Linked DNA regions of Homo sapiens: region 1 is linked to region 2. The links come from fine-mapping of genetic effects on gene expression. A gene starts in region 2. The other region holds a variant in brackets. All regions are shown on one strand. Distances are from middle to middle.

Region 1 (5,355 bases), 23 kb before region 2:
ACGAGGCTGCCCCTGGAAGTAGCCCTAGGCGTGCCGGGAGGCCAACCCTGCCTGTTGGAGAGACTCAGGGCCACCACGGAGGTCACCCATCCTGCCCCATCTCACTGAGCCGTCAATCTGGTTGGCACCCCCCTTTTCCGACACCACCCGGCCTGTGGACTCCTCATCCCAGCAGCCCCAGCCAGGGTCCAGAACCCCACACAGCTGTCCTCCAGCCGGTGCTCCACACGGCAGCCCCTGGAATCCTTTAAGGCAGCCCTGAGTCACTGTGCGTCCCTCAGCCCAGCCGCACCTGCCTCTCAGGGCTGGAGCCCACGCCTTGGCCATGAGGCCCTGCCTGCTTGGCCCCTTTCTCTCTGGACACAGTCCCCTTCACGCCTCCTGCTCATTGCACCCCACTGCACTCCAGCTGGGCCGGCCTCCCCAGGCCCCTGTTGCCGGTCATCCTTGGAGTCTAGGACCCCCACGGTGACCTGATGGACCCCTGCCTGGCAGGTGTACCCGGAAGGGCCAGTGCGGGCGGGCAGGCCAGCTGAACCAGTGGCTGTGGAGTTATGAGGAGGACAGCCACTGCCTGCACATCCAGAGCCTGCTGCCGGGCCACCACCCCCGCCAGGAGCAGGGCCAGGTAAGCCGCCCACCACCACTGGGCCCTCTGGGCAGCATGACCACTGCCTGGAGCATGAACCCCGCCTGCCTCCCGTCCTCCTTCCTCTCCCATGGCCTCTGCTGCCCCCTCTCTCTGGCTACATCTCCCGGTTTCTCCCCGCTGCATCCCAGGTCACTTTGTCTGTCCCCCGGCTGCCCATCCTGGATGCAGATGAATACTTCCATTGTGCGTTCGGGGACTATGACAGCTTGGCTCATGTGGAAGGGCCCCACGTGGCCTGTGTCACCCCTCCCCAAGACCAGGTGCCACTTAACCCTCCAGGCACAGGTGAGTGGCCCATGGGGTAGGGGGCTGGGATGGAGGCTGGAGGGGTAATGAGCCACCTGACCTGTCCTGCCCCCACTGTCCCCTCCCAGACCACGTCACTGTGCCCCTGGCCCTGATGTTCGAGGACGTGACTGTGGCTGCCACCAACTTCTCCTTTTATGACTGCAGTGCCGTCCAGGCCTTGGAGGCGGCTGCCCCGTGAGTCCCTGGGCCTGCCTCCTGGGGTAGGGGTGGCGACCCCAGAGGGCACTCAGTTGAGCAGCCACCCTGCCCCTCTAGGTGTCGCGCTTGCGTGGGCAGCATCTGGCGGTGTCACTGGTGCCCGCAGAGTAGCCACTGCGTGTACGGAGAGCACTGCCCAGAGGGCGAGAGGACCATCTACAGCGCCCAGGAGGTGGGTGGGCCCGAACTTCGGGCAGAGACAGGGCTGTCCCTTCTCCACCCTTCCCAGACCCGCCCAGCAGTAGGCCCTTTGAGTTCTGAAGGGCTGAGGGCTCTTGTTTTCCCAGGTGGACATCCAGGTGCGTGGCCCAGGGGCTTGCCCACAGGTCGAAGGCCTGGCAGGTCCCCACCTGGTGCCTGTGGGCTGGGAGAGCCATTTGGCCCTACGCGTGCGGAACCTTCAACATTTCCGAGTGAGCCATCAGGAGGGAAGGGGACAGGGCAGTGAGGTCTGCCAACAGCGTGTCCACACTCCTGACAGCGTCCTTCCCCAGGGCCTGCCTGCCTCCTTCCACTGCTGGCTGGAGCTGCCTGGAGAACTTCGGGGACTGCCGGCCACCCTGGAGGAGACAGCAGGGGATTCAGGCCTCATCCACTGCCAGGCCCACCAGGTGAGTGGCTGCCTTCCAAACCCTCTTGCCCCCAAGCTTCCGTAGACCCTCAGGGGTCTGCCATCTTTGTGGAGAGCCTGCTTGGGGCCCATAACCTCTGTCTGTGGGCCCCAGTCTTGGGGGAGAGGCAGGGAACAATCACATTCATTCTGGGGGGTGGCCCAGAGGAGACAAGAGTCAGAGGTGCCCTGAGTGGGCACCCAGCCTGACCCCACACTCTGCCCACAGTTTTATCCCTCCATGTCCCAGCGGGAGCTCCCAGTGCCCATCTACGTCACCCAGGGTGAAGCCCAGAGGCTGGACAACACCCATGCTCTTTATGGTGAGCCTGAGGGCAGCCAGGCAGGCGGGGCAGGGTGGGTGGCAGACAGGAGGCGCTCAGCACACTGCCTGACCCTCCCTAGTGATCCTGTACGACTGCGCCATGGGCCACCCGGACTGCAGCCACTGCCAAGCGGCCAACAGGAGCCTGGGCTGCCTGTGGTGTGCTGACGGCCAGCCTGCCTGTCGCTATGGGCCCTTGTGCCCGCCGGGGGCTGTGGAGCTGCTGTGTCCTGCGCCCAGCATTGATGCAGTGAGTCTCCTGCCGGGCCCCCACAGCCCAGTGGCCCACTTCTCCTGCCCCGCACTGTCCTGTCCTCCGTGATCAGACCAGCCCTGCCCCAGGCCCCCAAACCCCAGCAGCTCGGCCTGGCTGGGCTGGTTGGCTGGCCGGGCACCCAGCACTGCAGAGTGGAGCGTGGGTGCGGGGGACCCCATCTGCCATCATTTGCCTGCTGCAGGTCGAGCCCCTGACCGGTCCCCCTGAGGGAGGCTTGGCCCTCACCATCCTGGGCTCCAACCTGGGCCGGGCCTTCGCCGATGTGCAGTACGCCGTGAGCGTGGCCAGCCGGCCCTGCAACCCTGAGCCCTCTCTCTACCGCACGTCGGCCCGGTGAGGCACTTGGAGGGTGAAGATGGGTGGGGAGGCCCTCAGAGATGGCCACCCAGAGATAAGGAAGGCCTGTGGCCAAGAAACCTGGGGCACTCGGGTCAGGGGAGGGGTGGGCTGTCCCCTCCGTCCCTGAGCCCTGAGCAGCTCCCAGGCCTCGGCTTTCCAGGATTGTGTGTGTGACATCTCCTGCCCCCAATGGCACCACTGGGCCCGTCCGGGTGGCCATTAAGAGCCAGCCACCAGGCATCTCAAGCCAGCACTTCACCTACCAGGTCAGTGGCCTCCCAGGTGTGCCCTACGCAGGGGAGGGTAGGAGGGAGGGCCAGGAAGGACAGGCGCCTAGTAAGGATGTCAAGCTGGGTCTGCGGGGAGCAGGAAGCACCGCTGCATGTCTAGGAGGGAAGCCATGGCATGTGAGTGGAGGTGGGCAGCCAGGCCAGTCTGAGGCACGAAGCTCTCAGGATCTGTTGCCCTGGGCACTTGGTGGCACCGTTTCCTGGGTGGGAAGCCTGGGACAGGAGCAGTGAG[G/C]GCAGGGGTGGGTTCTGCCCAAAGAGGCAACTGGATTTGAGAGTTTAGAGCTCCAGGTCTGGGGGCTGTAAGCTGTGGTGGGGAGGAGGCTGTCCCAAGGGGGACAGAGTGGCAGTGAGGATGAAAGAGCCCCACTTCTACTCCCCATGCGGCAGGGGTGGGTGGGAGGAAGCTGGCCAGTGTGCAGTGGCCTCGGGAAGGAGGGCGTGGTCCACTTTGGCCCCAGGAGGTGAAGTCCAGAGATGACCTGCGCTTCAGAACCGGAGGGCCTTGGGCATGGCCCAGGGGGGTGAAAGGGCCAGGCTGGGCTGCCGTGCCTACCCAGCCTGCGCTGTTCGCCAGGACCCTGTCCTGCTGAGCCTGAGTCCTCGCTGGGGCCCCCAGGCAGGGGGCACCCAGCTCACCATCCGAGGTCAGCACCTCCAGACAGGTGGCAACACCAGTGCCTTCGTGGGTGGCCAACCCTGTCCCATGTGAGTCCCGGCCTGGCTGCCGTCGGGTGGTGGGCACTCCCATAGGCCTCAGTGGGGGTGGTACATTTAGAGAAGTGGTTGCTGTGGCCACCCCCAGTGGTCCCTGCCCTTGTCAAGGCAGGCAAAGCAGGGCTTCTCCTACGGGGGTTGGGCCAGGGCTGGGGTAGAGGGGTGGTAGAGCCGAGATGAGAGACCCCACTACCCATCCTGCAGCCTGGAGCCAGTGTGTCCGGAGGCCATCGTGTGCCGTACCAGGCCCCAGGCTGCCCCAGGAGAAGCAGCGGTCCTTGTGGTCTTTGGCCATGCCCAGCGCACACTGCTCGCCAGCCCCTTCCGCTACACCGCCAACCCCCAGCTTGTAGCGGCGGAGCCCAGTGCCAGCTTCCGGGGGTGAGGGTCAGCCCGCAGGCCAGCCTGTGCACCACGCAGGAGGGAAGGTGGGATGCGGGCTGGGCTATGTTGCCCACCGCCCGCCCACACCCGACTGCCATCCTGGTACAGGGGTGGGCGACTGATCCGTGTCAGGGGCACCGGCCTAGACGTGGTGCAGCGGCCCCTACTGTCTGTGTGGCTGGAGGCTGACGCAGAGGTGCAGGCTTCCAGGGCCCAGCCCCAGGACCCACAGCCAAGGAGGAGCTGTGGAGCCCCTGCTGCGGACCCCCAGGCTTGTATCCAGCTCGGTGGGGGGCTGCTGCAGGTGAGCCCCTCACCAGCAGGCGACAAGGCTGTCCCCGACCATGCCCATGCCCAGTGGGGAGGAGGAGGGTAGGCCGCCATGCCCCTAGCAGCGCACAGCAGAGCCCAGCTCACTCCACCTGTGGTCGGCCCTGAATGCCCCACAGTGCTCCACCGTCTGCTCCGTCAACTCGTCCAGCCTCCTCCTGTGCCGGAGCCCTGCTGTACCAGACAGAGCCCACCCGCAGCGGGTCTTCTTCACCCTAGACAACGTGCAAGTGGACTTCGCCAGTGCCAGTGGGGGCCAGGGCTTCCTGTACCAGCCCAACCCCCGCCTGGCACCCCTCAGCCGCGAGGGGCCTGCCCGCCCCTACCGCCTCAAGCCAGGCCATGTCCTGGATGTGGAGGTGAGGGCCACCTTCAACCCTGCCCCGCCACGGTGCTCAGGCCGCCTCTGTGGGGGCCAGCGGCTTAGGCTCCCATGTGTGTCCCAGGGCGAGGGCCTCAACCTGGGCATCAGCAAGGAGGAGGTGCGCGTGCACATCGGCCGCGGCGAGTGCCTGGTGAAGACGCTCACGCGCACCCACCTGTACTGCGAGCCGCCTGCGCACGCCCCGCAGCCTGCCAATGGCTCCGGCCTGCCACAGTTCGTGGTGAGTCCGTGCCCTGGGTGGGCAGGTGGACCGGGTGCCGCCAGCATGCACTCAGGAACCCTGCCCGCCCCCCAGGTGCAGATGGGCAATGTGCAGCTGGCCCTGGGCCCTGTGCAGTACGAGGCTGAACCCCCGCTGTCTGCCTTTCCCGTGGAGGCCCAGGCAGGCGTGGGCATGGGTGCTGCAGTGCTGATTGCCGCCGTGCTCCTCCTCACCCTCATGTACAGGTGAGACCCGCCCACCCCCAGCACACTTCCCTCCTCGCCATTGGCAAGGGCGCCCTGGCAGGCGGCTGGCCTGGCCCCGGCCCTGGCTGATGCTG
Region 2 (5,358 bases):
CCGGCACTCATCAGTCCAAGCCAGGGGCTAGGAGAGGGTGCCCACAAGGACCAGAGCCCCGAGGATAGCTCAGCTGATCTGTGTGGCACCTGGATCTGCAAGCACAGGCACGGTCGGGACTTTTCTGTCTTCTCTCTAGCGCTTATCAACGGGTCGGGACTTTTCTGTCTTCTCTCTAGCGCTTATCAACATCTGAAATCATCTTATTTGGGGGCTCTTGTAAGCACGCAGAAAGCGGCTTCGATGGACCTTCCTCCAGGGAGCTTTCCCTGATGCCCTAAGGCTACTGAGCTGGGACCCTAAGGCCCTACTTACCCCCTTCCCTAGGTTATCACTGCATTGCTCCCTCCTCAACCCCTGAGCCCGAGAGGAGGGGCCAAGTCAGTGTGGTCCAATACTGTCACCCTAGGACCCAGCACAGTACCTGGCCCAGAGCTGGCACATAAGGAACATTTCCTGAGTGAACAAGCACATCAGAAAATGAAAAAAGATCTGGAGACTAGGGAGGCCTCGGTCCAAATCCACCATCCACTCTTCTTGAGATGGCTTCATGGCCTCATCTGAAATTCACAGAACGGAGGTACCTACTTTCCGTGACTGTTGGAAAGATTAGGGGACAGGAGGTGTGTGAGCTGCTCACAGTAGCTAGTGCCACACAGCACGCCTGCCCCTTCACCCCACTGGCCCCTCAGGTCAGAGTTCAAGGCTGGTGTCCCTGGGAGGTCACGGGTGGACCCCTGCAGCTCCCAGCAGTAGTTCCTCCTGGGCTTCAGCTGTGGCAGCAAGCCAATCTCCTGAGAGCATGGACCTCCCTCACAGATGGCAACATCACCACCAGGGCTGAGCTGAACCTCTCTGCCACCCGGTCCCTGTGCCAGGTGTTCCTTTGGGCTTTGGCAAAAGACCCAGAGAGCGCTCCAGATGGACTTCCCTGACCTTACTGTACAGATGCAGGCACCTTCCTTCAGGAGGTCGCAAAGGCTCTGCCTTGTGCCCTGACTTCCCTGTGAAGCCACCAATCAAAGGAGCCAAGTGTGAGGCAGGATGCAATATGTACACGCCTCCCGCTCTCCCATCACCCTTTCATGGTTCCATGGAAAGAAAGAACATCCACACCCCACATCTTATGCCTGCTGAGGCTTCTGTCTTTGGCATATTTCTGTTGGACCATGTGTCAATGGTGGCTGCATGTTTTCCTATGGCGTCCAAATCAGTGGGATTCAAGACCTGGGGTTCCTCTGTAAGGGTTCTCACACCCAGGACGGTCAGTCTCAGGGCAAGGCACTGCCCAGCTACCCACCGTTCACTGTCCCCTACTCCCACCCCAACGCACACACAGGCACACACACAGGGGAGGTCAGGGAGGAGGCACACATGTCTTCACCAAGAGCCTACAGGAGCCCAGTTGCTGGAGCCATCAGAGCCTCTGGAAAGCCACTATATACTGCCGTCCTTTCAGCAGCAAGGTGGGAGAAGTCAGCATCGTCAAGAGAATTTCATTAGGCACAAGCAGTCTCCCCCAGAGGTCAGAAGGAGAAAACATGGCAAGTAGAGATGTCCCTGGGGAGTGGCCGCAAAGTCACGGAGTTCTGGAAGGTCAGAGTTGACAGGATCCTTTGAGAACATGAAGTCTCCTCCCCTCTGGGTTCCAAAGGGGAAACTAGAACCCAGAGAGAGGAGGAAATGGCCTAAGGCCACGCAGTGGCTCAGTGTGGGAGCATGGCCTAGAGGTCAAACCTCTTACCCATCAGGGCCAGGTGCTGGCTGGCAGCTGCTTCAGATGGTTTCCAGCCCACCTAGGACCTAAATTAACCTCTTCTTAAATAAGTGTAAGGAAAGAAGACTCGGACCTGAATACGCAAGACCGCACACGGAGAAGAGCAGAAGCAAAACCCCCGCAGCCTCAGAAACCCTAGCTCCTTCCCATTCCAGGCGCCTCGAGGGGAAGGCATCTGGGGCTCTAAGACTGGGGGACTATGGGGGATGACTGGCAAAGTCCGGTTCTTTGCCACCGGGATAGGTGGCAAAGCGGTCCACGAGAGAGGAAACCGTGGAGAAATTTGAGTCCCGGAACCGGATTCCCGAAGCGGTTTGAGAAAGGCGGGCCGGGATACGTGAGTGACTGCCTCAGAAGGGCTCCTTCAAGGACACTAAGGAGGTGACAGCCGCCGTGGCCCACTCTCCCGGCCCGTCCGGAGGGCCCCCCGCCACCCGATGCAGACCCCCTGGGGGAGCCGGTCCAGGGCCAACTTCGGCCAATCCCCTCAGTGACAGCGGAGGCGGCCAATCAACCCCGGCGCGAAGCCCTTTCCCCGCCCCTGGTGGGGCCCCTAGCCAATCGGACTCCAGACTGCTTCGGGTGCGGCTACCCCACCGCTCCCCTGCGACCGCTGCCGCGGTCCCGTGGCTCTTTCCCTGCTCACCTCCCAGGGACGGCAGAGAAGGGCTGGCCCGAGCACCGCCTTCGCGGCGCTGCCGGCGACGGTCGCTACCTTCAGCGCCATGACGGAAAGTGAGAGCCTCCGCACGTCCCGACACGCAGATACCGCTCTCGCGAGAGTTCGACGGGGTGCGAAGTTTCGGGGACAGGCGCGGACCCGGTACTGCGCACGCGCGCGGTCGCACCGATTCACGCCCCCTTCCGGCGCCTAGAGCACCGCTGCCGCCATGTTGAGGGGGGGACCGCGACCAGCTGGGCCCCTGGCTCAGGGAGGGGCCACGTCAGTGCTGCCAGAGACGTCACAATGCCGGCCCAGCCGTTCGGTGCGCGATTGGCTGCCGCTGCCACTTACGCGTCGCTCTTCCTCGTTTGCCCCTCGTGTTCATGGGAGCTCGTTTTCTTTTCCTCTAGGCAGAGAAGAGGCGATGGCGGCGATGGCATCTCTCGGCGCCCTGGCGCTGCTCCTGCTGTCCAGCCTCTCCCGCTGCTCAGGTAGCGGCCCAGCCGGGGCTTCTTTCTTGCGAGCCTCTGACCCACGGCAGGTGGTGTTGGGGGCAGGAGGGATGCGGGGGTCCGGCCTTTCAGGGTCCGTCGCTGCGGGCCGGGCCTTCCCCCGAGAGGCAGGCGGCCTTGGGACGGGGGGACCAAAGCACCTCGCGCACGTTTACCGGCAGCCAGGCTTTTCCTTGTCTGCCCATACGAAGAGGAGTCCCCGAGCCTCCATGGTGCGCCCGGCCCCCAAGCTGCAGCACGGAACGTGACACATGTCCCGGCTCCCGCTCCCTGCGGGGTCGGACCGGAGCGAAGCTCTGTAGCGCTGAGCGATCGCGGCCAAAAACGGGGCTGGAGGAGCCACATAAGCTAGGAAGGGACCTCAGTGAGGAGAGGGAGCAAGAGCGGGGCGAGTTAGATGGGGAGCCAAAGGTGCGCAGGGCCTTGAGTGCCAGGCCGAAGACTGGCTTTTCCGGAGGGCCCTGCCTTACCCTTACCAGAGTTTTCGGCAGAGCCGACCAGGGGTCCCGTCGATTTGCATTCGTGAGGGGCTGAGGTCTGAACTCCAGAGTGTGTTTAGGAGGTGGCTGCAGCAGCCAGCCCCGGGCCCGGGGGCCAGGACTGGACAGGGGCGGCTTTCTCCACATTCCCTTTTCTGCCGTCCTTCAGGCCAGTAGCCTTGCTGCCTGCAACGTTTTGGCAGCCTAACTGGCCTCCCTTTCCGCACACTCCTCATCTGCCCCTCAGGAATTCCCTGAACTATAGTCAGGGACGTATCCAGAGGACAAGCCTGGCCATAAAACCCTTCGGGGGCTCCCCTGCGCCACAGGAAGCAGGCCCAACTTAGGCAGGACACAGAAGGGCTGGCGGGATCTAGCCCCTGAGAACTGCCTCCACGCTGTTCCTAGGGATCTGCCTCCTGTGGTCCAGACCCAGAGCCTTCTCTGACGTCCTCTGCTGAAGCCATCGTTCTGCCAGGGCACCACATTTGGACAGCGGGTGGCTGAGAACATTCCCACTTTGGGGAGCCTTTGTTTCACACCCTCTGATGTAGGCGGCAGCCTTCCTTTCCTTTGGGCCTCTGGTTATGGAGAAGGCTAAGGCAAGGTCCTTTCTCTCACAGCTAACAAGTTGTGCTTCTGGAACCAGAGTCTCTCCCGTTTACTTCTTCAGGAAACGCTGGGGCCAGTCTTCACCTTCTGTCAACTGGCCGGGGGCAGAGACCCTTTCTCTCATCTTGAAAGCCCCAGTGCATTGCCTGCCTGCAGCCCCCACCCCCGATGTCTCTGCTGAGGATGCCTTCAGTAACTCGTCCAGGCCGTTTGTGGCTCTGAATTGAGGCTGGCGTGGCCCCCGGGCCTCCGTGTCATAGGTCCAAGTGTTGGCATGTATTGTCCAGTGAATCCAGCCCCCACCTGTCCCCAGTTCGCTCTTCCTGCACACCTCCAGAAAGCCGGCCTTGCCCCTCCCCAGCCTTCCTTCACAGCCATCCCGCCTACGTTGCCATTGCATTTGTGACCGAGCACTTGGATCTGTCTCGCATATCCCACCTGGAAGGGGCAGGAAGAGCGCATGGGTCCCCAGCTGATCCGTGCTATGAGGCAGGGCCGGGCCATCCTGCCCTCAGACCGGGATACTCGAGCTGGCCTTACCCAGGCATCTCTCCCTCTTCCCCGCAGCCGAGGCCTGCCTGGAGCCCCAGATCACCCCTTCCTACTACACCACTTCTGACGCTGTCATTTCCACTGAGACCGTCTTCATTGTGGAGATCTCCCTGACATGCAAGAACAGGGTCCAGGTGAGACAGTGGGGTTTCAGACAGGAGGGCGGGTGGGGGGTGCTCCTCACTGCTAGTTGATGGGGGACCTGTGTCGATAGAGGGAGAATCAAGATTCCAACTCTTGGGGTGCCGGAGAGATCAGGGCACGGTGATGCCAGATCCTAGCCAGTGTTGACAGGTCACCTTCCTCACCTGCTTTGTGTGCTGTGCCTACACGAGGTAACCCTGGGCTCACCACCCGCTGTTTCCTGAATGAGTATCTGGACCGGGAGAAAGGGCCAGGAGTCAGCCCACCCCGGTTGCCATTGGCCAGTTTGTCTGTGTGGGTGTTTTGTTTTTGTTTTTGTTTTTTGTTTGTTTTTTTGAGATAGGGTCTCACTCTGTTGCCTCAGCTGGAGTGCATTGGCACGATCTTGGCTCACTGCAGCCTCCACCTCCCGGGTTCAAGCGATTCTCCTCTCAGTCTCCTAAGTAGCTGGGATGACAGGTGCTCGCCACCATGCCCAGCTAAGTTCCCATAAGTCCAAAGAAGGAAATGGGGCCTTTTTTGGGTATGGCCCTCTTAGGGTAAAGCACCCCTTGGGCAGCCCACTGGGCACCCCTGACCCCAGCACCTCCCTTGTAGACTCAGGAAATCACTCAGCCC

What was found. PIP is the estimated chance that this variant, and not a neighbour inherited with it, causes the effect. A credible set is the group of variants that fine-mapping cannot tell apart.
Region 1: its variant is the best candidate, but not a certain one, in a credible set for the expression of IDH3G in lung (TOPMed, PIP 0.53).

What each region holds. Positions count from the first base shown.
Region 1 is chrX:153,769,312-153,774,666 of GRCh38, forward strand. PLXNB3 (plexin B3) reads left to right here. Exons shown (of 36, transcript NM_005393.3): 7 at 496-628; 8 at 781-937; 9 at 1,027-1,135; 10 at 1,217-1,331; 11 at 1,447-1,572; 12 at 1,654-1,770; 13 at 1,999-2,092; 14 at 2,175-2,344; 15 at 2,553-2,704; 16 at 2,871-2,976; 17 at 3,575-3,705; 18 at 3,919-4,095; 19 at 4,207-4,402; 20 at 4,548-4,787; 2 more. Among named protein-coding and RNA genes, the nearest start is that of PLXNB3-AS1, 5.5 kb to the left of the region's middle. The variant G/C (reference allele first, on the strand shown) is at 3,233.
Region 2 is chrX:153,791,823-153,797,180 of GRCh38, forward strand. It overlaps IDH3G (isocitrate dehydrogenase (NAD(+)) 3 non-catalytic subunit gamma), which reads right to left and starts at 2,553. Exons shown (of 13, transcript NM_004135.4): 1 at 2,424-2,553. The coding sequence starts at 2,504. SSR4 (signal sequence receptor subunit 4) reads left to right here and starts at 2,846. Exons shown (of 6, transcript NM_006280.3): 1 at 2,846-2,932; 2 at 4,612-4,730. The coding sequence starts at 2,866. RefSeq lists enhancers at 1,916-2,643, 2,543-2,802 and a silencer at 2,103-2,252.